7 linked regions of the Homo sapiens genome follow. The protein of the gene in region 3 purifies or fractionates together with the protein of the main gene of each other region. This does not show direct contact. Each region holds a gene or a part of one and is shown on either strand. Other genes may lie near its edges.

Region 1 (3,500 bases), on a different chromosome or scaffold from region 3:
ATATCAGTTATTTACTATATAACTCTGTTCAAGTTAAAGTGAATGAGGGAACGAATCTAGAATAAAAAGTCTCTCTAAAGTATCCGAATACAGGAGATATTAATGTAATATACGGACTTGGGAGTATAGATTTATTTAGAATCAGACCAGAGTTGGCATCTTGACTCAACTATTAATTGTGTAAAGCGGGTATACCATTTTACCTTTCTGGGCCTTAGTATTGCCATCTATAAAATGGAAATTAACAGGGTTATTTGGGGATTACATGGGGCAATTTATTAACATGAGGCTGATATTAACAGGGTTATTTGGGGATTACATGAGGCAATTTTGCAAAACATTTATCATAATGCCTGGCATATATTGAGTGTTTATTATAAATAACTGCTTTACTCTGTTAGGAAAAAATGCATTCCAGTGCTAGATTCAGTACACATTTACCTATGGTAATAAATAGGATCTTGAGCAAGAAATAGAATATTTCCAGTTAGTTTAACTTTTTATAAAGAAATAAAGACCATTTTTAAAATTAAATTTGAAAGCTATATAAGAAAATCAGTTAGATTTAGATAGGCCAGATGTGTTAGAACATAAAAGACATTAAACATTTCCAGCTAATCAGTTCTTTTAGTTTATATGCTGTTCACAATCCTACCAGTTCATAAGTATATAAATGCATTCCTTCTTATGTTTCTGCAAAGGTAACATTCACACACAGTGGAGGTCCCTGGTACAATACAGACACAAGAATTAGGAAACCAATGTTGACAACAGAATTTCCGTATCATAAGGATTATCCAAGTGGATAATCTTAATAGGTAAAATATGAATTTCCTATGGGCCTCTCTGGGAATCCTACCTGCCTGTTAAAAGGAGCTCTGGTTTAAATGAAGCAGAGAACAGTGAAACTGAAGAAGAGCCAATACCATTTATTGTAACATGAATCATCTAAAATTAGTTGCAAAAATTTTAAGAACATTAGAGAAACTTTTCTCCACATATTAATAATTTTGCTTCTAAAATATTTTTCCATTCCTACAAAATCAAACTTTTGATAAGCCAGCCGAAAAAGAAACAGGAGAAGCAGATGTGTCTCCATCCATTATCGGATGATTTTAAAACATACCTTCATATAGATGGCTCTGTTAAGTATATCAAGGATATTAAATCAATACACTGTAAAAAGATGAGTTCTCTGAGTGTTTTGTTTTATTCTTTTGTTTGTTTTGTTTTTGGGAGTAGCAAGTCATTCACTTATTGAGAGAACATTTATTAATATCCTATTTTGGGTCCAAGCATTTGTGAATTCAGGAAACACAAAGATGAATAGACAAGAGCCCTGCCCTCAACAGACTTGCAGTCAGCTGGAGGAGGTATATATGTCCCAGCAACAATAAAGTAGAACATGCACCCATGCATGGGATCACAGGAGGATGCATCCAATCCTGTCCGGCGAAGCCAGGGATGGCTTCACAGAAGAGGTGATGCCTTCATGGGTAATGTAAAAGTAGGAAGAAGAGGTGGGACAAAAGGATGAGAACTCAACAGGCAAAAGGAAACACAGATGAAGCCTAAAATGAGAAGAGGACATTCAAAGAACTGCAAATAGTGTGGAAATGGATAATATAATGAAGTGGGGGGCATAGGGCACGCTGCACATGCGGGCTAGGATAAGATCTCAAGGAGCCTGCTAATGAGCTTGAGCACCTGTAGTTTAGTTGAAATTTTGTTTTTTATAAATTATACACTCTATCTATTTTCTGCGTCTTGATAAAATGATTAGTTACCTCTTCCCGGGTCCACCTTGTTTTCCCCAAGTGACGCTTTCCAGACTTGGGAAGCAGCCCATCATAGTCATGGTCACACATCTCAAAGTCCTCATCATCCTCGTCACTGCTATATATGCTGCAGAAATAAGAATGGGTAGACGTGGGCTGAAACAAGAGGATTTAGACTACTACTGGATTACAAAACTTACACAAAACTCCTCAACAATCTTTTCAAAGGTTATGAAGACAAAACTTTGAAAACTTGCACAACAAGATTGTTTGCTGCATTCTGTTGCTCTAGTATTGTAAACTGGTTCTGCTGTTATGGGTATCCACAGACACGGCCAAGGACCTGGCACCTTCCTATTCCCCTGCATGTCTGAACCTGCTGTTACTATTAGACCAGGGACAAGTTACACATTTGGCCACCTTCCAACCAGTGAAGGTTTAAGTTGAAAACTTAAGGTTAAGGATAAGAAAAGGAACAAGAACCCATGTCCTTTATATAAGTGCACACTCAAAATCTTTGGCATCTGTCACATCGTTTAAATAATATTTCTCAAACATAATAAACAATTCAACTATGCTATTCCAATGGGGTTTTTGTTTTATTAAAAGAAGAAAAAAATCAAGAAGTAGTACAGCGCAAAACAGAATTATAGTGATCCCATAAAGTCTAGAGGATTAGGAGAATCTAAGAGGAAAGGATTTTAAAACCAAAGCAAAGATAAGAACATTGAGTGATCAAGCTTTAATGTTTTGTAAATAAAATTAATACCAAATTGCTCACAACTCCAGGCCTGGTTGATCCAACTTGTGCCCATGTTTACAATACTTAGTTTCTAGAGTAACTAAGTGAATAATTAGGCCACTTGTTAGTCAGAGTCTTACTTACTCTTGTTTTTTCTGTCTCTGATGGAATGGTGTTTGAAATATTATAAAATGTAACCTAATCCAGAAGGGATTTCCCCAGAAAAAAGCCATGGATTTAAAAGAACCCATTACTATTTTCGAAAGCTTTTTCTTTTATTTAGTTAACCTAACCTAGGAAATTTTATGACTTTTGAAGAAGTAACTATATGCTTACTGTTTGTTAATCATAATCATAATGTTTGTTAATCTAATCAACTGATCAGATGACAATAATTTTACAGACACGGTTTATTTTATAGTTTTTCTTATAAAACTTAAAATAGGAAAAATACTATCTTAGAAACTTCACTAAAATTTGTCATTGCAATGTTGGGAAACCCATTAAACTAAGACCAATAAAAACAATGATATAAAGCCATATCATAATGTAAATCATTGTTTTTAAAAAGAAAAGTTATATTCATTACAGGTTTTGTCTTCCCAAACTAACTCACTGGTATGCATATTACCAGCCCCCTACAAGTGAAGCTGAAGTGCTTACCAAAAATCCTGAATTGGGGGTTCTCATAATTTAAAGCTATTATTTTAAGCAACAATCTGATAGTCCAGGTTGAATGGCGACATGATGTAATCCAAATTTAAAATACCACCACCACCAAATAAAATCCCAGGAAATATATATTTATAATCTGTAATAATTCCTTTCATTTAGTGTCTGTGTTTTGAAACAATAGCCTAGTTCTGTTTCCACTGTCAACAGGAGGCACTAAACAACTTCTGAACAAGAACTACAAAAATGTAAAACACGATATGATAAAGCAAAAAAAAAAAAAAAAAAAAAAAGCTATAAAGCCCAGA
Region 2 (3,500 bases), on a different chromosome or scaffold from region 3:
TCATCGCTCACTGCAACCTCTGCCTTCTGGGCTCAAGCACCTCAGCCTCCCCAGTGGCTGCGACTATAGGCGCACACCACAGCGCCCAGCTAATATTTTGTGTTTTTTGTAGAGACGGAGTTTCGCCATGTTGCCCACGGTGGTCTCCAATTCCTGGGCTCAAGCAATCTACCTGTCTCCACCTCCCAAAGTGCTGGGATTACAGGCGTGAGCAACCACACCCGACCTAAGTGCACTGTCTTTGAGAGCAATCGAGTTAATATCATGTGCAAAGTATGAGATAAAAGGCCCCCCAGAGGCCGGGCGAGGTGGCTCACACCTGTAATCTCAGCACTTTGGGAGGCCAAGGTGGGCGGATCACCTGAGGTCAGGAGTTTGAGACCAGCCTGGCCAACATGGAGAAACCCCATCTCTACTAAAAATACAAAATTAGCAGGGCATGGTGGCGCATGCCTGTAATCCCAGCTACTTGGGAGGCTGAGGCAGGAGAATCACTTGAACCTTGGAGGTGGAGATTACGGTGAGCTGAGATTGTGTCATTGTACTGCAGCCTGGGCAACAAGGCATAACTCCGTCTCAAAAACGAACAAACAAACAAACAAACAAACAAAAAGGGGTGCTGCCAAACAGATAAATAACACAAGCCACATATGCAATTTTAAATTTTCTAGTAGCCACATTAAAAAATAAACAGAAATGGGAGATATTAAATTTAATATTTTATATTTATTTATTTATTATGTATTCAGAGTGAGGCTCTGTCGCCCAGGCTGGAGTGCAGTGGTGCGATCTTGGCTCAGTGCAGTCTCGAACTCCTGGGCTGAGGCATTCCTCCTGTCTTAACCTCCTGAGTAGCTAGGATTACAGGCACTCACTACATGCCTAGCTAATATTTTTATTTTAATTCTGTAGAGATGGGGTCTCACTGCGTTGTCTAGGCTGGTCTCAAACTCCTGGCCTCAAGCCATCCTCCTGCCTTGGACTCTCAGACTGCTGCCACTGTGCCTGACCAAATTTAATATATTTAAATTTAATTTATTGAATGTATATAATCGGCTGGGCGCAGTGGCTCACACCGGTAATCCCAGCACTTTGGGAGGCTGAGGCAGGTGGATCACCTGAGGTCAGAAGTTTGAGACCAGCCTGACCAACATGGAGAAGCCCCGTCTCTACTAAAAACACAAAATTAGCTGGGCGTGGTGGCACATGCCTGTAATCTCAGCTACTCAGGAGGCTGAGGTAGGAGAATCACTTGAACCCGGGAGGCGGAGGTTGTGGTGAGCTGAGATCGTGCCATTGCACTCCAGCCTGGGCAACAAGAGCGAAACCCCATCTCAAAAAAAATAAAAATAAAAATAAAAGTAAATAAATAAATAAATAAATAAATGTATATAATCTATTTAACCCAATATATTAACATATCATTTCAACATGTAACCAGTATAAAATTGTTAATGAGATATTTTACATTGTTTCCTTTTTTTTTTTTGAGACAAGTTCTCACTCTGTCGCCCAGACTGGAGTGCAGTGGTGCGATCATGACTCACTGCAGCCTTGACCTCCCAGGCTCAAGTGATCCTCCCGTCTCAGCCTCCCCACTAGCTGGGACTACAGGTGTGCACCATCATGCCCAGCTAATTTTTGTATTTTTTATAGAAATGGGGTCTTGCCATGTTGCCCAGGTTGGTCTCGAACTCCTGAGCTCAAGTGATCTGCCCACCTCGGCCTCCCAAAGTGCTGGGATTACAAGTGTGTGCCACCACGCCCAGCCTATTTTTTTTTTCATACCAAGTCTTCAAAATCTGAAACCCAGTATGTATTTTACATTTATAGCACATCTCCATTTAGTCACAATTTCAAGGACTCAGTAGCCACATGTGGCTAATGGCCACTGTCCTTGTCCTGTTCCAAGCACAGGAATTAGATCAGGCACAATTAGCAGCGTTTGCTTGGCAGCTTAAAGGGACCTTTTGGTTTTCCCAACATCCTGCCCTTGCCACATAGGTGAGGTTTCCAGATAAAGGAGGGGACGAGGCCACAGAAGGGGATGGATTTAGATTCCTCTGACCAAATGCACCCCATCCCAGTTGAACCTGGTTTCCTCCTGAATTCTTCTCAATCCAAGGCATATCCCAGTCAGACTGGGCTAATGGGGGCAAGGTAGGTGACCAGACCGCCTTCCTCCTGTCCGCAGACCCATGCCTGAACGGTGGCTCGTGCCAAGACGGCGTGGGCTCCTTTTCCTGCTCCTGCCTCCCTGGTTTCGCCGGCCCACGATGCGCCCGCGATGTGGATGAGTGCCTGAGCAACCCCTGCGGCCCGGGCACCTGTACCGACCACGTGGCCTCCTTCACCTGCACCTGCCCGCCAGGCTACGGAGGCTTCCACTGCGAACAGGACCTGCCCGACTGCAGCCCCAGGTGGGCGGGGCCTCTGCTTGGAGAGCAGGGACTCTGGCTTGGGATGGGGCCTGGGACCTGGGACGAAGTGGGGACAGCAACGACTTGGGGGAGTCCTCAGCTTGGTACCCACTGCGGACTCTGATGACTGATGGGGCAGGGCCAGGGAAGGAGCAGGGCGTCTGTTTGGAGCTCACCTTGGAGTCTCTGGTGCCTGAGAGGGCATGGCTTCCAGGTGGCTCTCACCTTAGGGCTGAAGTCCCTGGTGAATTGGAGCTAAGGGACCTGATTGGCTTCTGCTGGGGCTGCAGCTTCTTGCCGAGATAAGGGTCAGGGAGTGGGACGTCCCCAGCGCTAACAGCGGGACTCAGGAAGGAGGGCAGGGCCTGTGAGGGGGCGGAGCCTGATCCTCCCTCCCACTCCTTCCGCTCCAGCTCCTGCTTCAATGGCGGGACCTGTGTGGACGGCGTGAACTCGTTCAGCTGCCTGTGCCGTCCCGGCTACACAGGAGCCCACTGCCAACATGAGGCAGACCCCTGCCTCTCGCGGCCCTGCCTACACGGGGGCGTCTGCAGCGCCGCCCACCCTGGCTTCCGCTGCACCTGCCTCGAGAGCTTCACGGGCCCGCAGTGCCAGGTGGGTGGAGTTACTGGGGACCTGGGGGAGGAGCCTGCCTGGGATCCTAGGAGGGAGAAGCCAAGTCGGGGCACAGTTTCTCCCAGACTACCCCCCACCCCACAGTACTGACTCTGAGTGCTTCCCCTCCAGACGCTGGTGGATTGGTGCAGCCGCCAGCCTTGTCAAAACGGGGGTCGCTGCGTCCAGACTGGGGCCTATTGCCTTTGTCCCCCTGGATGGAGCGGACGCCTCTGTGACATCCGAAGCTTGCCCTGCAGGGAGGCCGCAGCCCAGATCGGTGAGTGGGAGCATGTGGGCGGGCGTGTGGGGCCTTGGGAAGGGGCTCATGCACGTACCTCCTGCTAGTGTGAGCCGAATGGGGGTGCCACAGAGCCTATGGGGCATGATGGGGTGTGTGGCTGAGTGGTGTGGGTGTGTGAGCATGTGACAACTGGCCGGGATGGTGTGTGTCTGTCACTGTGA
Region 3 (4,003 bases):
CTCTGCTAATTTACACCATGGTCTTCCATCTCAGTTCTTCCCCAGGAACATAAGGAATGGTTCCCAAGAAGGAAGGAGTTGAACTAGAAATTTGTCAAGACCTACACAAAGCTGGGGGTAGGGGACAGGCAGACAAGGTGACAGCTGCGCTGCAGGACCCTCCACGCCTTCCCTATGGAGGGGCTATGGGAAGCCAGACACTTTTGGTTTCTGGGCTGAAAATAGAACCTTTTGGGAAGACTGGAACCACGCAGGAGGAAAAGAGCAAGAGGTGCACCTCTCTCCACACACGGGCGCCGAAGGGAGCCCAGAGTGGCCCCCACGTCCAGGGGCCACGGGAAGGAGAGGCAGCCGCAGAGCCTCCGAGCTGGGTGTGCAGGTGAAAGGCAGGCCCTTGAGGTGGGCACCACAGGCTCACTGAGGCAGGTACTCAGCTGGGAAGGCTTGCTTCAGGGTGAACATGAGAAAGACAATCTCCTCGTAATCATTGGCTTCGTACAGACACCCAAACAAGGGGGACCCATCAGGGCCGGTGCCCATGCTCTGGAGGTCTGAGTAGGCACAGCTGCCCTTGGCCAGCAGTACCGGCTCTGACCAGGCCTCAGGGGCTGGAGGTCGCGGGTTGAGGTAGGCACCCAGGTCGGCCCTCTGCCAGGAGTGTGTGGGGTGAGTGTAGAGCAGCCACTGGGCTGGGGAGCCAGGCCCCGAGCGGGGGCTGGGGAAGCTGATGACGCTCCCCTGGCAGCCCTGGGGCGGCGGCTCCACCAGCTTCTTCACCAGCTGAGACTCCTGGAAATCAAGCCCGTCATTGGTGCTCTGGGCCTGGACCCTGGCTCGGAGGTGGCTTCTCGCGTTGAGGGTCACCACCCTCTGCTCCCCAGTCTCGACTTCGGCCACCTGGCACTCCAGGGTGTCCTGGGCCACAAAGTGCCCTCGCGCCCACGTGCGCCCATGGTCATGGCTGAGGAAGCAGAAGGCAGAGGGGATCGGCCTTTGGATGGGGTGAAGTTTCCGGTAGGCGTAGGCGGGCACCACCAGGCTCCGGGCCCTGTCGTGAAGCTGCAAACAATGCCCCGGGCCCACTGCAAAGGTGGACCACTCCCGGTAGGCTGGGCCGATGGCCGCATCAGTGAGGTCTCTGGGGGAGCTCCAGGTCCTCCCGTGGTCAGTGCTGGTGACTTGGCACAGCCGCGTCACATTGGCCCTGGTCTGCAGCTGCTGTTGCTCCGTGACTTGCCCAGGGATGGCAATGAAGAAGAGGAAGAGGGTCCCCGTCTGCGCGTCATACAAGGGGCATGGGTTCATGGACCGGTGGCCATCCAGCCGGGCCTGGGCCACCACCTCCTGAGCTTGCCACTGAGTAGGGAGAGAGAAAGAAGAAGGCAGCCTTGAAACAGCTGGGGATGGTGCCAGGAGCTGCATGAGTGGGAGGGGTGGGCACGGGTGTGTCTCCCGGGTTAGAGTCAAAAGTCATCGAGAAGAACTCTTCACCCAACACTCATATCCTCCTTGCAACGTTTCCCCAGAGCTGCGGGGCCCAGGGTGCCACCTCACCCCTCCAAGGCAGCCACACTCGGCTGAGTGATTCTGTTCCTTCCATTGCCATCAATATGCATTTACAGAACACCCACCTGCCAGACCACAAGATATGAAGATGACTCGTGCATGAGCCATTCCCAACTTCATCCTGGTTCCTCCACTTCCCACCCCAGTCCAGCTCACCATCCTTGAATAGCAAAGCCCTGGCGGAAGGTGCAATAACCTGACCAGTACAAGACAGAATGTGACGGTCACCTCTCACCTTCTACACTCCATATCCTACTCATGTAGCCAAGGAGGAGTCACATTGAGCTTCCAGAATCCCCAAGTCTATGTCACATGTGCTGTCTGTCCCCATTTATTAACAGCTACCCCCATTGGGCAATTCTAAGCACAGACACAGCACCAAAAGTCTAACATCCATGGTCTCATCTAATGCCTCAATCCCCAGGGAACAGGTGTTAGTAGCTCCATTATTACAGTGAGCAAGAGACCGCGACAGGGAGGAGGAGTTGCCTAGGCCACATCTGTGGTCAGTGGCGGAACCAGGACTTGAACCCAGGTCCATCTGCTTCAAATCCCATGCTTTGAACAGCTGTGTAGTAATGACCACAAAGGAATGATAATAATATTAAACTCTTCAAATATGATCAGCCAGCCTTGGGTGCTGTCATCAGGATTAATTATTTAATCTATAAAATGGGACTTTAGGACACAAGCCATCACCCCACCCCAAGTCCCCAAGTTAATTTTACTCAAAGGACACAACCCTCCATTATGCAACACTGAACTATTCCTCCGTGAGGTCATCACGGATGCTGGGCAACTCATTCAATCTTTCATGAAAACAGATGGAGGCCAGCTGGACTAATTCACAGTGAACCCAGAGGTCCAGGGAACCATTAGGGGCACTTTCTCTGCTCTATCTCTCCTCCGGAGTACAGCCATTGAGGGATAAAGTTGTCCCTGTATTTCTTGAGATCCAGGACTGGCCCCTGATCACAGCAGCAAAGGGTGTGGCAGAGCCCTGGGGAGCCAGTGCAGACACCTCCTGCCTCACCTGAACCTGGTGGGTGGGTGCGTCGTAGTCTCCTCTGCGCAGGACAATCAGCTCTGCGTGCTCATCCTTCTTGCTTGCCCGCTGTTCCGCGAAGGCCAGCAGGGACTGCTGCCCAGGCAGGTAGAGCAGGGCAGGGATTCTGTAGGCATGGGCTCCCGACTGGAACACGCTCTCCTTCTGCAGGACAGGAAGGGACGCCATGGGGCTGGGGGGTGGACAGGAAGAGAAGATGTGTCACCTGCAGCCACACCTGAGATGGGCTCAGAGTCATTCACCAAGACAGGTGGTGCTCACCCCCTGGCTGAGTGGACCAAAGTCAGGGCGGCCTGTCCTCTTCCCGCGTGGGGTTCATTCTCCTTTCCTACATCTCAAGACCCTGCTTCTTAATTCTGCCTTTGCCTCGGTGGATATCGGGAGGGGGTATTGCAAAAGCGTGTTTTGGATTCGATTTTTATTCTAAGTTAACAATGCTCCTTACAACAGATTTTCGATAACCTCCAGCTGCTTTTGCCAAACCCAGCCCATCAATCCAGGGGCAAACCTCGGGAGGACAGCAGTGCAGGCCGGGTGGCATTCGGCAGCTGCCCAAATGCCAGAAAGTGACACATGGGAGCTTTTTATAACTCCAGAGCCCTAGAAAGTTGTTTCAAAGAAAAGGAAAAAGAAAAAGCATGGCTTCTAAGGCTCTGCTCCCCAGGCTGCCTGAGGCTGAGGCCCGTCTGCCCCCGCTGCTGCGTGGGCTCCCCCTGAGGCAGCGAGGGGGCGGCGCTGCAGTGGGAAAGGAAGAGACAGGGGCTCCTGACAGCTAACCCAGGCTGGGGGCGTGGGGTGCTCCAGAGGTCTAAGAAAATAACAATTAAAAATAAGTCTTCAGCTAAAAAGGGTAGGGAGGGGACAGAGGTAACTTGGGGACAGTGGGTGACAGTGATTTTCGGGCTAAGCTGCCTAGGTCCCTTTAGGAGGATGCATCCCGCAGCTCTGGGGAGTGTTGGCTGCAGGGCCCTGGCCTGGGGAGGATGGGCCAGTTGTTCCCAGATGAAGAATCTGCCCCAGGTCATACCCAAGAAGGGCTGCTTGATGATTGGTCCACTCAGAGCCTGAAGACCCTCTTCCTGAACTCCTGACCAGGAACAGTGCGGCTCCGGAGCTCCCTCCGGGCGGCTGGGCCTTCCCTGAGACTGCATTACAGCCGCCTCTTTCTCTGCTGCTCCTCCCTTTCCCCCAGAGGCTCTTGCCTGCCGTGGGTCTCCGTGTCAGAGCCGGCGTCCTGGGCACCCCGTCTGAGACACAGCCTTTGCAGAGGGCAAGTGGGCAAGAGGCCAGCAAGAGGGGCAAGGTTTGCCTTTGTGCACCCTTTTGTACTGCTCTCATTTTTCTACCACATGCATGCGTTATCTATTTAAA
Region 4 (3,728 bases), on a different chromosome or scaffold from region 3:
CCAGCACACACTTAATAAGGGTTAGCTACTATCATGAGACCTGAGAGAGGAGGGCTCACCATCCACACGGAGCTAAGGAAGACTCACACCCCAGTAAGCTGGCTCCAGAACCCAAGGGCTTACCTGTGCTCTGTGATTCCCCAACTAGGGATTTAGTTGTAGCCACGGACCTGGTAGGCAACAGGGAGGGGATTTTAATCTGCTCCTTGCATCAGAAGGTCCAATAGGCAGGGTTAGTATAATGGGAGATGCCCTGGTAGGGCTGGCAAGGAGAAGAAGCCACATGTATTTTGGTCTGATGAAAAGCAGCAGTGATCTGTCACTGACCAAAATGGTCCCCCAACTATGCATTACGGAGCAGCAACCCACATACAGAACTCGAGAAGCCACGGCCTGGAGACTGTACCTGGACACCAAAGACTGGAGAGAGGAGCTGGTGGGGAAACCCCAGAGTTCCCAGGGTGCCACTCCCCAGCTCCACCAGAGAACTTTGGGAATGAGCTGCTGCCCCTGAGTGCCCCTCTCCAGGGCCTCAGTGAGGGTCTCTACCCTCCAGGGAGGAACAAAACCTTGCCAGCTGGGGTCCTGCGAGAGGGGGCAGTTCAATTCCTCCACAGGGGACTCTGCAACTCCAATCTTTCGAGTGAAGCATCTGCGAGGCCCTCAGGGACCCAGGATGAACTGCATAGCAGCAGAAGGAAGACAGGCCAGACCAGGCGGGAGGGAGCCCGGAAACATCTGGTTTGTAGTTTCAGACTCTACCCGTTCACAGTTCACACAGTCTCACCGGGAAACTCACACCTTGCCCTGTACCAAGTTTTTAAGGCAGTTAAGCTCTGCCCATCCGAGACTTCATTTTTCTTGAGTAGAAAATCACTGAAATCATCAGATCCATGGCACCCACCTTCACTTTCTCCTAACAGCTGGAACCGTCAGGCTGGCTTCAGGGCCTGGTCTTCGCACTTGATATCACTATCCCTCACCTGCTCAGACAGCCAGAGCAGGCGGGTGAGTTCCTCCCAACAACCTCCACTGCATTCTCTCAGCTCCCACCGCAGGGCAGCCCACGTGCCTGAGTGAACATGTGTGCGTGTGCACACACGCAAGTATGCACAGACATACACTAAACACGAACATACAGTGCACATGAACGCTGCTCCCAGCTAGGGCCCTCTGGTCAGACTGCTGCCTGGGTTAGAATTCTTGTCCCCACCCCCACTTACTATAGTTCTGTGATCCTGGACAAGTAACTGAATCTCTCCGTGCCACAGTTTCTTCTTGTAGAAAACGGGAAAGTTCACAGTACTTACCTCCTTAGAGTCATTGTGAAGGTCAGTTTGAGGCATCACAAATTTAAGGCACCCAGACATAAGGGTCAACAGGGTTAGCTATCACTGTCCAGTTTGGTGGGAGGAACTGAATGCATGTAGGCACATGGACCCAGTCTACACTCAGGCACAAAAGGAGCTACATTAGTTACATTCAGGCATACCCCAGAGCACTACAATTCTCTGAGACATTGTCTGGAAATCTAGAAATCATCTCCTTGCCCTTTAAGGTATTTTAACCCTCGCATTCCTCTGCTTTTCCAAGAATGTGAATCTTGCCAAGCTGTCCGTGAGAGACACGGGCTCCCCTCGAGGGAGACTTGCAAATGCTCCATAAACAGCCACAGTGTGGGGCTCTGCCATGAGGAAGTCACAGCAGACACGCTAGACAGCATAGTCCTGGATGCAACCTGGAGGAAGGGAGGCCCATGGTGGAGCACTCACTCCGTGCCTGTCTGCCCGGTGAGACCTCAAGTTCCTTGCAGACAAAGGCCATGGGTTGTTGGCTCTTGTGTTCCCGGTGGCCTTTCCAGAGCTGAACAGAGGACAGATGCACAGACGGGGGGGCTCTGGTGGTCAAGGCAGCAGTCCCCTTGGATACTAAAGTCTGAGCCAGGCCCCTCAGGCCCGGCATGGGCAGTGCGAGGCCCATAGTGGTGGGAAGCCAGTTGGCCAGCTGGGGTGAGAAGGCCGCGAAGCCATGGGCAGACAGGAAGTGGAGGTGAATGTCTCTGCCTCCTGTAGGCCTCAGCAGGGACAGCACAGACCCTCTGGCTGGGGCAGCGCAGACCCTCTAGCTGGGGCAGAACAAGGCTGGTGCTTCCTTCTAGTCCTTGAGACTTTGTAGCTCTAACTCAAGCAGAACCCTGGGGTTTTGGGATTCTGTGTGGTGACTGCTGAGGAAGGTTTATGGATTTGACAGGGTGCATGTCACAGAGAGACAGTTCTCAGTCAGCACTTCCTGTCCCCTGCAGAGGCTCATAGGGGACAGCCCCTGCCAAGGAGACCCTGGAGGGGCTCTGAGGATAGCAATCAGAGGTTGGGCTGGCTGGACTGAGCCCAGGCCTGTTGCCCACCAAGTCTCCATAGGTTCTAGTCTGACCCCTCTCTCCACCCCTGGGCTATGCAGGCCAGCCCGTGCAGACCACCCCCGACGCGTCCACTTGCAACACCCGCCTCACTGTGCCAACACTCCATCCACACAGGAAAGGACTGAGAACGTGATGCTTAACCCAAAGGAGTGAGTTTCATAGGATGGGTGGCTTTAACAGTTTCACAGCAGGACACTGAGGGAATATTTCCCTATCCCTTCAAATGGACGGTCACTACAGAAACGTGTAGAGCAAGACTTTGTCAAGGGGCTGTTTCCAGGTCTCCCGGTGTCTAAATAGCAGAGCTGGAATGGGAACTGAGAACCGATTCTTTCCACAACCGCCCACTGAGCAGCAAGGCTGCAGCCAGCAAAGAGGTGCGGAGGCAAGCAAGCTCCATGTGGTGGGGACAGCGCATTGCGACCTCCACCACCCCTGCAGTGGGCTGCCAGCTGAGCCACCTGTCTTCCACTGTATCTACTGTACGAACTTCTCCAGCTCTGCTCTGTTTTCTCTTCCTCAGCATCCACCCCGTGACACGTAGTGGTGGCTGATGTCGCCACAGTACCATGAGGTTAACAGGTCCTCCCTCCAGCTTCCCTCATGGTGGCAGCCTAACCTGCATTGCAGCCGTTCACCGGACACCGCACCAGACCCTCAAAACCCATCCAAGACTGTGGGAGGAGTAAACAACCCAGCCCAGTTAAGAGGAGATGCCGAATTTAATGAACCCTATTTGAATTGCAGGGCTGTGATTCCTCTTACCTTTAACGTGAACTCACAGGCGGATTAAAGTGAAATAAAACCTACCATTTGAGTTACATTCTCAGCTGATTGGAAACATGCATTGCCTCCCCATGACCGGGCCGTGAGAAGGGAAGTTATTATCTTTCTTTAGAGTTTGTAAACTCTTTATGGCTGAGGCAGCTTTAATCCTGCTGGGGAAAAAAAAGGATCCGGGAATCAATTGCTCCTATTTACCTTTGTTTTCCAATCACATGCTCCAGTGGGAATAAAACATCCTAAGTGAGGGGATGTGGGGAGCCAGGTGATCCCTGACAGAAGAGTTTGATTATTTTCTTCTCTAGGCATGTGAATTGAAGGAACTTTAGAGTTCTATTTGGCAAGGGGTCTCATTTCACAAAAATGTGCACCCCAGTAAGGATATCAGCACTCCTGGGCCATTACTGGTTCCTCTGCCTTTTCTTTCCAGAGGAAATGCCCTCCATTCCCCAACCATGCCCACTTCTTTAAGGGGTGCTGGCAGCAAAGGGCCCAGCTCCAGGCATTTGGCCAGGAAGGAGTCCGA
Region 5 (3,500 bases), on a different chromosome or scaffold from region 3:
GCAATCAGATAAATGCGAACAAAAACAATGAAATACCATTTCTCACCCATTTATTAGGCTGATAAAAAAATATATAAAGTTTGACAATTACAGATACTGAGTACTGGAAAAGAAACATATGCTCCTGGTACAGTATAAATTGGAATTCCAGATTACCAGGATTGTGTGATGCCCCTAGGAAAGTCATCAGCTTCAGCACTTCCTTACTTCTCTGGATTCATGCTTTTGCCTCATTTTTTGGTCTCTACAGATTTCCTATTGCTTCCTTACTAGCAAAGTGACAACAATAAAGTATAAAATAAGCATGCTTATTTTACATTATATCCACCAGAATTTCTAGATGTCTTGAAATGGAAGTATTTTCATGGTGTCTAATTCAGTATGTACACTGAAACAAAAATTGAGTGAGTTCACTTTCAATTTAATGATATTAAACTCAATATTCACTCAACTTTATATATGCCCTAGATTTATAAATCTAGTAAACCTTTAAACTCACTTCCTATAGGAAATTTATTTTTCTTAAACTGATGTATTTCATAGTTGTTCTCACTAATTGTATTAAATACTATAAAAAATAAAATGGTATTTTACAAGTTAAACTGCATTTATATAAATGTCTTGTAAGTTTATTAAAGGTAAATTAGAAAGTTAAAGCATTTCAAATATTCTCTTACCTGTTCAAGCGCTTGGTTTTTCTCTTGCTCTATTTTCCTCATAGTTTCCTTTTCAGCTTTGAGTGATGATGATGACACAGTTTTAACAGACATAAAATCAACAGTCATCCACTCATCCCTCTGTTAAAAAAAAAGACATAAAATCAACAGTCATCCACTCATCATTTCAATCTGAACTGATTAGAATTTAATAAACACTTGGTAATAAGAGCAGGGACTTTGGAGGCAATCAAACCTGAAACAAGTCCTACATGGCTATATAACTTGAAGCAAGCTTCTAAATCTCTCTATACTTTAGTCTCTCCTCTATAAAATGGTATAAAATCCCTACCTTTCAGGATTGTTTTAAAGAGTAAACAAGATAACAGATCTAAAGCATCCAGCCCAAAGCCTGGCACACAACAAGCAATCAAACTTAGTTCCTGTTCACCTTTCTTCCTTCACCTGTGGCTAACAGTGGACAAATTACATTCTTCCTGAGGCAGATGAACTATAGCCCAAAATTTTTGAACTATTCAACTGTTAAGTATTGTTAAGAAAATTAAGGCATGAGGTGAAGGGAAAAAAAACTGTGATGGAACTCCACTCACTATAGAAGGGTCAGACAGAGATACAGTATAAGGCTTTAGGGACATAAGGGGAAAGTGCCACTTCTTATCAACAATCAAAAGCATGAAAGCCTCTAAGGAACGAGAATAGAGAGGAACACTCACTTTCTCACAGTAGAAGGGGAAGGGGGTTCTAAACATTCAGCAAACAGCAGTACTGCCAAAATTATTCCTAAAGTATATTGTTTTCAAAGTCTAATTGTTCTCCTGAAGAAATTTTAATCATCTTTCATTTTCATATTCATTTATTCTCAAAAGTTGATACTTTTTTCTTTAAAACCAAGTGATAGGCCAGGTGCAGTGGCTCACGTCTCTAATTCTAGCACTTTGGGAGGCTGAGGTGGAAGGATTGCTCAAGCTCAGGAGTTTGAGACCCAGTCTAGGCAACATAGGGAGACCCCAACTCTACACAAAATAAAAAAATTAGCCAGGCGTGGTGGGCACACAACTGTGGTCCCAGCTACCAGGGAGGTCGAGGTGGGAGGATTACTCGAGCTTGGGAGGTCGAGGGTGCAGAGAGCTCTGATTGTGCCACTGCGGCCCAGCCTGGGCAACAGAGTGAGACCCTGTCTCTAAAATGAATGAAAGAGAGAAAGAGAGAGAGAGAGAGAAAGAGAAAGAAAGAAAGGAAGGAAGGAAGGAAGGAAGGAAGGAAGGAAGGAAGGAAGGAAGGAAGGAAGGAAGGGAGGGAGGGAGGGAGGGAGGGAGGGGGAGGGAGGGAGAGAGGGACAGAGAGGGAGGGAGGGATAGAGAGGGAAGGAGGGAGGGAGGGAGGAAGGAAGGAAGGAAGGAAGAAAGCAAGGAAGGAAAATCAAGTGGCTTGCTTACCTTGATAATTTGGGTGTCATCTTTTCCTGACTTTTCATCTTTCACTTTCCAGGCTTTTTCCTTGTCAGGAGTCTGGGATGGAACAGCCTCAACCCACTCATCTTCAGAGCTCTAAGAACATTTAGCATATAAGTGAAATTGTCAAATTTGCATACTTTGATATAAAAATTCTGTGCTGTTAAGTGGTAGAAATTCAACATCGTAGAAAAAAATTCTTACACTGTATTTCCCCTTTACAAAATGGCAATGAAATTTTAAAGAGCTGGGTGTGGTGGCTCACACCTGTAATCTCAGCACTTTGGGAGGCTGAGGCAGGCATATTACTTGAGGTCAGGAGTACAAGACCAGCCTGGCAAACATGGTGAAACACCATCTCTACTAAAAATACAAAAAAGTTAGCCAAGCGTGGTGGCGCATGCCTGTAATCCCAGCTGCTCAGGAGGCTAAGGCAGGAGAATCGCTTGTACCCAGGAGGCAGAGGTTGCAGTGAGCTAAGATCACACCACTGCACTCCAACCTGGGCCACAGAGACTCCGTCTCAAAAAAAAAAATTTTTTTAAAGAAAAAACATATAAACCCACTAGTTTGAGTTAAGCCCACCAAACACAACCAAATTATTTTTATTTTCTCATCCATTTATTATCAAGCCAAGAGAAGGCAAAAAAACAAAAATGGGAACTGCCAAGTAGAGACCTCACTTCAGCACAGAGCTTCAGTGACTACCAACGTCAAGTAGTTACTCACATCTCTGCTTCACTAGAACAGGGGAAACACCACCCAGGTAAACGAATTTGCTGTTTGCCCCTAAGTTTCACATTTTGAGATTTCCCTTGATCTAAAACTGCAGATAACATTATCTTCTTCAACACCCTCCTGAAGCTTTATACCAATTCCCATATTCTCAGCAAATGATGTCTTCTTTTACCTCATCAAGAAAACTAGGGCCACCTTATCCTCCTACCCACCGCCCAAAACATTTATGGCTGTGCCTATCCTTATTTCCAGTTAACTCCTCCTATTTAAGGCAGATCTTGCTCTAAAGATTTTGATAACTCTTTCTGTTCCTCCAGGACCTTGCTCCATCAATTATCTTCTCCTCTCACGGCATTAACCAAAGATCCCTAATGGCCTAGAAACAATTTCAAGCATTTCCCACCCTTTTTTTTTTTTTTTTAAGGAGGGAAGGGGGACCTTCCTTGACCCCGTATATTCCTCCTCTAGCAGGAATTAATCTTCCGGCTTCCATTCTCAGATGAACTTCTTGAAAGAGTAGTCTACATGCACCGCCTTCACACTCTCACTTTCATACATTTTCTCAAAACTCTACAATACATCTACTGTCCCCATTAATCTACTGAAACTTCTCCAAACTCACCAGTGGCTTCCA
Region 6 (3,500 bases), on a different chromosome or scaffold from region 3:
TAAATCTTACCAGCAAAATTCTAAGTCATGATCAGATGCAAATTATTTGTCACAAATGAAAATTAAATAATTACAATGGGGGGTTTAAGAAGAAAGACATATTATAGTAGATTTGAGATAAATGTATAGAAAGTATATTTATATTGAAAACAAGTGTGTTTTTGGACATCTCTGCATAATATAAAAACTAAGAAGGCAGAAAATGACGCTAGTCCAGTGATCAGCAAACTTTTTCTGCGAAGGGCCAGATAATAAATATTTCAGGCTTCGTGGATCTGCTGCAACTACTCACCTCTACTGTTGTAGTGCGAAAGCAGCCAGACATAAGTAAACAAATGAGCACGGCTGTCTTCCAATAACATTTTATTTATGGACACTAAAATTTGAATTTTATATAATTTTCACTTGTCACAAAGTATTACTCTTTTGATTTTCTCCAACCATTTAAAAATGTTAAAACCATCCTCAGCTAGTGGATCACTAAAAACATAAAGATTTATCCCACAAGCCAGTGTGCTGGCCCTTGCCCTAGACTATTACAGTTCAATAAAATAAATCCTTCTGCATTCAACCTCAACTATTGTTCATCATTAATACGTGTTTTAAGCCACTCTACAGAAAACAGAGATTACTGTCATCTATAATGCAGTTTCCTAATAAAAGTAATTCCTGCCTCTCAGAGCCATTGAGAACATCAAATGGGAATCTTCACCAACGCCTTACCAAAAAGCTTAAGATACTATCTGTAAATAGCTATTATCCTCACTGCTCTAGATACTTCCTTAAGATATGATGGCCTGTATATGACAGCCAGAAGTGATGCGAATGCTCTTCAGGTGTCTTCATTAGATAATACAACAACTCAATGCCACCATCTTGCAACCACAGGATTCTCTAAGTTTCCTCTCATCCATATTATCTACCCTCCTTGAAGTCTCATCAATTGCTGATCAAAGAGGAATTTTCCAAAATTAGAATATTTGCATAGATGATGGAAAAAGAGTACTCTGGGGGATCCCTCAACAACCCACAGAACACAGGATAAGCTTGGCTTCACTGTTACATCCTGAAAAGCCAAACCCAAGTCATTAATTTTATCTGATACACGGTCTGGTCTGCTCCAAAATCTCATAGGATCAAACTGCAGAAATGATCACTACAAAGAGTTTGTCCCATCACATACTTCTCTTTTATCATAATAGTATATTAATATCTGCCTGAGCTGCAATGTAAATTGTCTCTGAAAATATAAGGGCTATCAATAAACAAACAGTGCATTCAAAGAGATCCATGAATTTATGTAACAATCAAGAGTCAAGTCCTTTGTTTTTAAAAAGTTCTATTGACATGGAATTCAATATTAGCTTAAAGCCAGATACTGTCTAATTGCTTACTACATCACTTTTTGAGGAACATTAATGCAAGTATTTCTAGTCCTAATTTTGCAATATCCCAAAGTATCAATGATATCAAGTAGGGCTCAAGAATCTACAAACATACTTTTAAAGTTTTTAATTAAAAAATGTATTCTGGATATGACACCAAAAGCTCATATCCCAAAAATCATTGCAAAGACTAATGTCAAGAAACTTTCTCCCTATGTTTTCTTCTAGGCATTTTACGGTTTTGGGTACTGCATTTGGGTCTTTAAGCCATTTTGGATTAAGTTTTGTACATAGTGTGAGGTAACGGTTCAGTTTCACTCTTTTGCACATGGATATGCAGTTTCTCCAATACCATTTATCGAAAAGACTATCCTTTCCACATTTCTATTCTTGGAACCTGATCAAATGTGATTTTTTTTCTAAAAAAAAATTTGCTTTCTAATTTGTCACATTGTTCTATGTGTCTGAAAAAAAAAAATGTATTCTGGCCAGCATGTCATAAATACGAGAGTAATAAATGATAAAAGAAAATGCTGCTCATACAAAACTAGTATTATGTCTATATGTATGAAAAGCATGGACATTTTTACATAAATGTACAACTTTCCATTTATAAGTTGATGGGGCCTATGTGACTTATCAAATTGTTAATACAAAATAATAACAAAAGTGTTATCTATATTTCCTTCAGTTCTTCCTTATCAAAATTATATACAATGAACTCATAGTCTAGTGAAATACATGGCAAGGTCCCAGCTGTCTTTTCCCTTATATCACACAGGATAGTTAGAAAAATCCAGATCAGACTGGAATAATAAGCAAAATCATATTTTTCCTAATACTGTTCTTCACTGGCTCTCAAACTCTAGCCTTTTTCTGAACTGCATCTTCCCATCTTTGCATAGCTCCCTTATTACATCAAGATCCATCTCCAGCACCCTGGTTTGCATCTCAGGCCCTGGTTCCAGCCCCACAATACTTTCCCAACCAGATCTGAACTGAGAAAAAGACATCACTACTCACATCCCCAGTTCCTGTTTTGCCTTTTTTCAAAACCAAGTGATTCTTTCCCCTCTTCATGTTTCAACTCAGGAGCTCAGTTATTAAACACATCCCCAAATATCCTACAACCCACAGGTAGATTTGTTTTTCAGTAAGACCCCAGAAGTAACATATGCTTCTAAGTCAACAGCACATGCTATAGGCAAAATGCAATCATCTTTCATACTACTAAGAAATTTCCCTAATATTTAAGTTATCTAATATAAATTCTTTGAAAACCCTAAATTAGGGCAAGTGGCTACTACCTATAAAAGATAAGAACTTAAAATGAATATGTGAGTTTAAAAAGTAAACAGATATTAAGATGTGGAGGCAAAGGGATAGTCTGTCCACTAACACTCCCCACCAAAGGAGTCAGCAGTCTTCTCAAAAAGCTCCCAATCTGACCTCCAAGCAGAGCTACTTCCTCTGTGCTTTTAATGCAGCAAGCATGTGCAAACCTCCTTCACAGGTGTTATGTACTGGACTGTCGTTATTGACAAAGATAGTCTCATTAACATCTATATCCCAAGAATAAAGTTTATACTCAATCACTGAAGAGGAAGGGCAAGGGAATTATTCAGACTTCTTTTCGTGGAAAGGGACTCAAGAAAATACTTAAAAGCACCCTTCAAATTCAGGATTAAAGGAAAGACGTTAAAAAGAAGGAAGTTCTGGAACCTGAAAAACTAAGAGTTTTTACCTCACCTTATCATAGGTAGCTGACGTAAGGTCATCATAGTCAGAAAGCCAGGGGTGGGCCTCAGCATCCCGTTTTGCCATCTCCTCCAACTCTGCCTGCAACTTGTCCCAGAAATCGACATCAGACTGTAAGGAAGGGAAAGCAGATAGAAAAAGGAGATCCATCATGACCACCCCACCCCACACTCAGCTCTGCTGGGATTCTCTAAGGCAGCAGTTCTTGAATTTCAATATGTTTAAGAATCATCTGAATAAGTTTTTTAAAATGCAAATGGCCAGATGCTATCCCCAGATACTGATTTAGTAGTCTGGGGTGATGGCCAGAAATGTAATGTAGTGCAGTGCAGTGCAGTGCAGTGCAGTGCAGTGCAG
Region 7 (3,500 bases), on a different chromosome or scaffold from region 3:
TAATTGATTGGTTTCAGGATCCAATAAACTCTACAGGTAAATCCACTAAGGTAATGGTCTATACCGGTGGTTCCTGAACTTGAGTGTGCAGCAGAATTACCTGGAAGGCTTCTTAAAACACAGATTTCTGTCCCCACCTCCCAGGATTTGATTCAGGCGGCCTGCTGTGGAGCCTGAGAATGTACATTTCTAACAAGTTACCAGGTACTACAGATGCTTCTGTTCTGGAGACTGTGCTGAGAACCACTATGCTATATCTTTCCAGGGACAGTAAGGATCCCACTAAAAAGACAAGAATTCGATTTTTATCAGTTTACTAAATCAACATCTTATATTTCTATACTAAACACTAGCCACTACTTGAGGTTTATTACTGTTGTGATTATGTTTATAAAACAGGGACATCTTGCATACCCCTAATGGTGTGAATAAAATCAACTGTGTCAGTACCTTTGAGCACTTCATAACTTAAAATTCTAAAAAATTGAGATTTGGACCTACAGTTTGCTATTTAACAGACCAGGTCTGGTCTTGACAGTAAAGCCACCATCAAAAGCTGCATTAAGAACCTCATCCAGGCAGCTTGCTGTGACAAAACTTAAATCCTGTCGTACGTTGCCTGGGATTCCCTCAAGGTCTTTTTCATTTCTCCGAGGAATAATGACTTGCTTCAGTCCCGCTCTGTGTGCCGCCAGCACTTTGTCTTTAATTCCACCCACCTGTAAGGAGAGAAAAAAGTTTTTAGGGTTAATGATCACCCTCAAGCTGAAAGAAACCCTGACCCAGCTTTCTTTCACTGAATTTAACCACTACTATTTTAAAACATCCAAATCATCTTCCGTTTTGTTATAGCATGAGCTAGGAAAGCCAGGAAAAAGGATAAGTAGTAACCTTTTTTTAATGTTTCAATTGGTGTTATATTAAAGACTCTGATGAGGGGGATTCTAAATTGTTGATAGGTATGAGTTCCTCTTCTGTCAATGATTGTTTTTATAAATGCTGTCAAAGTAAATTGGCATTCAGGTGTAATCACAACCGTCTAGTCTTTAGGTTGATCTGAAAAAGCAGCACGTGATTCTGACCATGAGCGCCGCTCCTGCAGAGCTTAGCTGTGTGCTGGGGTTACTTCCCTCTCTACAGGTTTAAAGCCAGAACCTCCATGCTGGTTAATGAAGAAAATGTATCCCTAAACTAGGCTCCTATGGTGGCTTTCAAACATGTCTACAATGGTCCCCCTGCTTGAATGTGGGCCAGGCTTTGTGACTCGGTAAGAAACAGAGTGTGGTGGGAGTGATGCTGTATGATCTCCACGGCTGAGTCACAAAAAACGAGAGCTGCTGCCTGAATCTCTCTTGATCACCTGCCCTGGAGGTGGCCAGTCATAATGTCTGAGGTCACTCAAGCAGCCTATGGGCAAGTCCATCAGGTGAGGAACTGGGGCCTCCTGCCACTAGATGGGACCAATTTGCCAGTCACATGAGTCAACCACCATGGAAGCAGTTTCTCCAGCCTGTCAGCCTTCATGTGACTGCAGCCTGGCTGGAACCTAGACTGTAAGGCCAGAGACCCTGGGCCACAAGAACCCAGCTCAGCCTCTCCTGAATTCCTGGCCCACAGGAACTTGAAGAGTATGGAGTATTCTTGCTTTGGGGTAATGTGTTGCATCTGCTCCAATTAAGACTGGCTGGCTGCTCCAGGCCTTCCCGCCCCACTGGCATCTTCTTTCAAGGTTTTGTTCATGCTGCTGAAGTACTCCTTCAAAGTACCTTCTTCAAAAGAGTGTAAGATGAACTGATTCCTTGCATGTTTGAAAATATTTTACTTTCACACTTGATTGATACTAAGGCCATGTATACAAGACTAGATGTAAAACATTTTCCCTCACAGCTTTCATTACTATTTTTTTTTTTTTTGAGACAGTCTTACTCTGTCACCCAAGCTAGAGTGCAGTGGCACAATCTTGGCTCACTGCAACTTTCTGCCTCCCAGGTTCAAGCGATTCTCCTGCCTCAGCCTCCTGAGTAGCTGGGATTACAGGCATGCGCCACCACATCCGGATAATTTTTTTGTATTTTTAGTAGAGACAGGGTTTCACCATGTTGGCCAGGCTGGTCTCAAACTCCTAACCTCAAGTGATACGCCCACCTTGGCCTCCCAAAGTGTTGGAGTTACAGGCGTGAGCCACCACACCCAGCCTCCTTACTATTTTTAAAACAATTTTTGTAGAGATATATTTCCCAGGCTGGTCTTGAACTCCTGGACTTGAGCTATCCTCCTGTTTAGCCTCCCAAAGTGCTGGGATTACAGACGTCAGCTGCCACGCCTGGCCCATTTTCCCTCATAGTTTTGAAGGTACTGCACATCCAGTGTCAGTGCTGAGGCCGCTTTATCCTCAGTAATCTGAAAAGTCAAGGGGATGAAATGTTTTTCCTGGTTAGTAATGGTCCTTTCGATCTCAAGATGCCTTAACTTCTAGGAAATGTTCAGTTATTTCTTGGATAATTTGTTCCATTCCATTTTCCTGTTTGTTAGAACTCCTTTTAGATGTTGGAGTTCTAACAACAAATTGTTTTTCACTATAGTTTTTTCCTGAATAATTCTTTGACCACTTTCAAATCCCAAAGCCCCGTCTTGTCCTCTGTTCTCAAAGGAGGTTTTCTCCAGCTTTCACAGGCCTTTCTTTCAAGTGCTGCTGCTTTCCATCCTGCCTCTTGTAATGGTCTGGAGCTGAAGGTGTACCCCAGGCCGCTGTGGCTGTCTCTCCTGAGGCTGCAGAAGCCTTTACTTGGGCTACGATTTGCTCTGAGAGGGGACCAAGTAGAAAACCCATTTGTTCTATGGAGGTTCTAAAAATAGAAAAAATTATCCGGGCGTGGTGGCGCATGCTTGTAATCCCAGCTAGTTGAGAGACTGAGGCAGGAGAATCACTTCAACTTGGGAGGCAGAGGTTGCAGTGAGCCAAGATTGTGCCACTGTACTCCAACCTGGGTAAGAGAGCCGGACTCCATCTCGATAGAAAAAAGAAAAAAAGACTATTTCTTTTTTTTTTTCCTCATCTTGCTATGAACCTGCCAAAATCTTGTTGTGGACTAAAATTGTAGTCTAGTCTGTTGTAGACTAATACTCAACTAACAACTTTAAATACTCTCAAGTTCTGTACATTTTATCACACTATTTTTATAAGCAGTTTAGGATCTGGAGCCTCAAGACCCCACATGTATAGAACCTTTTCAAAATGTAGTCATTAGATATGGTTAATCTTTATTAGAGTTTCCATTCTATACTAGCAAAGTTTTCTGCAGGGGGACAGGAGGTCTCAAAGAAACTTCAAATTTAAGAAATGGGCTTAAAGCTTAAAAACAACTACTATCCCATTTTGCACATGTGCTATATCTTTAACAATTTGTCAAGTAGAACAAGGCCTCAAATTTTCATGTAACTGCCAATATTTCTGATGACCACACTAATATTTTTTTCCCTTAGCAAATCTTAGAATGGGA

The links.
Region 1: the proteins of NEU2 (region 3) and MYB purify together in Homo sapiens (co-immunoprecipitation; one large-scale study listed by IntAct). This does not show direct contact.
Region 2: the proteins of NEU2 (region 3) and NOTCH3 purify together in Homo sapiens (affinity purification with mass spectrometry; 3 studies listed by BioGRID and IntAct, with this or other methods). This does not show direct contact.
Region 4: the proteins of NEU2 (region 3) and TIFAB purify together in Homo sapiens (tandem affinity purification; one large-scale study listed by IntAct). This does not show direct contact.
Region 5: the proteins of NEU2 (region 3) and CWF19L2 purify together in Homo sapiens (affinity purification with mass spectrometry; 3 studies listed by BioGRID and IntAct, with this or other methods). This does not show direct contact.
Region 6: the proteins of NEU2 (region 3) and PEX5 purify together in Homo sapiens (affinity purification with mass spectrometry; 3 studies listed by BioGRID and IntAct, with this or other methods). This does not show direct contact.
Region 7: the proteins of NEU2 (region 3) and LONP2 purify together in Homo sapiens (affinity purification with mass spectrometry; one large-scale study listed by BioGRID and IntAct). This does not show direct contact.

Annotation. Positions count from the first base shown.
Region 1 is NC_000006.12:135,184,308-135,187,807, reverse strand, and holds part of MYB (transcriptional activator Myb), read right to left. Parts: intron 1,906-3,500; coding exon 1,788-1,905; intron 1-1,787. UniProt on the Homo sapiens protein: Transcriptional activator; DNA-binding protein that specifically recognize the sequence 5'-YAAC[GT]G-3'. Plays an important role in the control of proliferation and differentiation of hematopoietic progenitor cells.
Region 2 is NC_000019.10:15,180,496-15,183,995, reverse strand, and holds part of NOTCH3 (neurogenic locus notch homolog protein 3 precursor), read left to right. Parts: intron 1-2,194; coding exon 2,195-2,420; intron 2,421-2,833; coding exon 2,834-3,035; intron 3,036-3,167; coding exon 3,168-3,315; intron 3,316-3,500. UniProt on the Homo sapiens protein: Functions as a receptor for membrane-bound ligands Jagged1, Jagged2 and Delta1 to regulate cell-fate determination.
Region 3 is NC_000002.12:233,031,469-233,035,471, reverse strand, and holds NEU2 (sialidase-2), read right to left. Parts: upstream 2,801-4,003; coding exon 2,600-2,800; intron 1,357-2,599; coding exon 415-1,356; downstream 1-414. UniProt on the Homo sapiens protein: Exo-alpha-sialidase that catalyzes the hydrolytic cleavage of the terminal sialic acid (N-acetylneuraminic acid, Neu5Ac) of a glycan moiety in the catabolism of glycolipids, glycoproteins and oligosacharides.
Region 4 is NC_000005.10:135,443,726-135,447,453, reverse strand, and holds the end of TIFAB (TRAF-interacting protein with FHA domain-containing protein B), read left to right. Parts: 3' UTR 1-345; coding exon of another isoform or gene 346-1,080; 3' UTR 1,081-3,228; downstream 3,229-3,728. Other genes in the region: DCANP1 (dendritic cell nuclear protein 1), read left to right, coding at 346-1,080. UniProt on the Homo sapiens protein: Inhibits TIFA-mediated TRAF6 activation possibly by inducing a conformational change in TIFA.
Region 5 is NC_000011.10:107,440,826-107,444,325, forward strand, and holds part of CWF19L2 (CWF19-like protein 2), read right to left. Parts: intron 2,225-3,500; coding exon 2,114-2,224; intron 798-2,113; coding exon 678-797; intron 1-677.
Region 6 is NC_000012.12:7,203,186-7,206,685, reverse strand, and holds part of PEX5 (peroxisomal biogenesis factor 5), read right to left. Parts: intron 3,255-3,500; coding exon 3,135-3,254; intron 1-3,134.
Region 7 is NC_000016.10:48,348,800-48,352,299, reverse strand, and holds part of LONP2 (lon protease homolog 2, peroxisomal), read right to left. Parts: intron 720-3,500; coding exon 498-719; 3' UTR 1-497. UniProt on the Homo sapiens protein: ATP-dependent serine protease that mediates the selective degradation of misfolded and unassembled polypeptides in the peroxisomal matrix.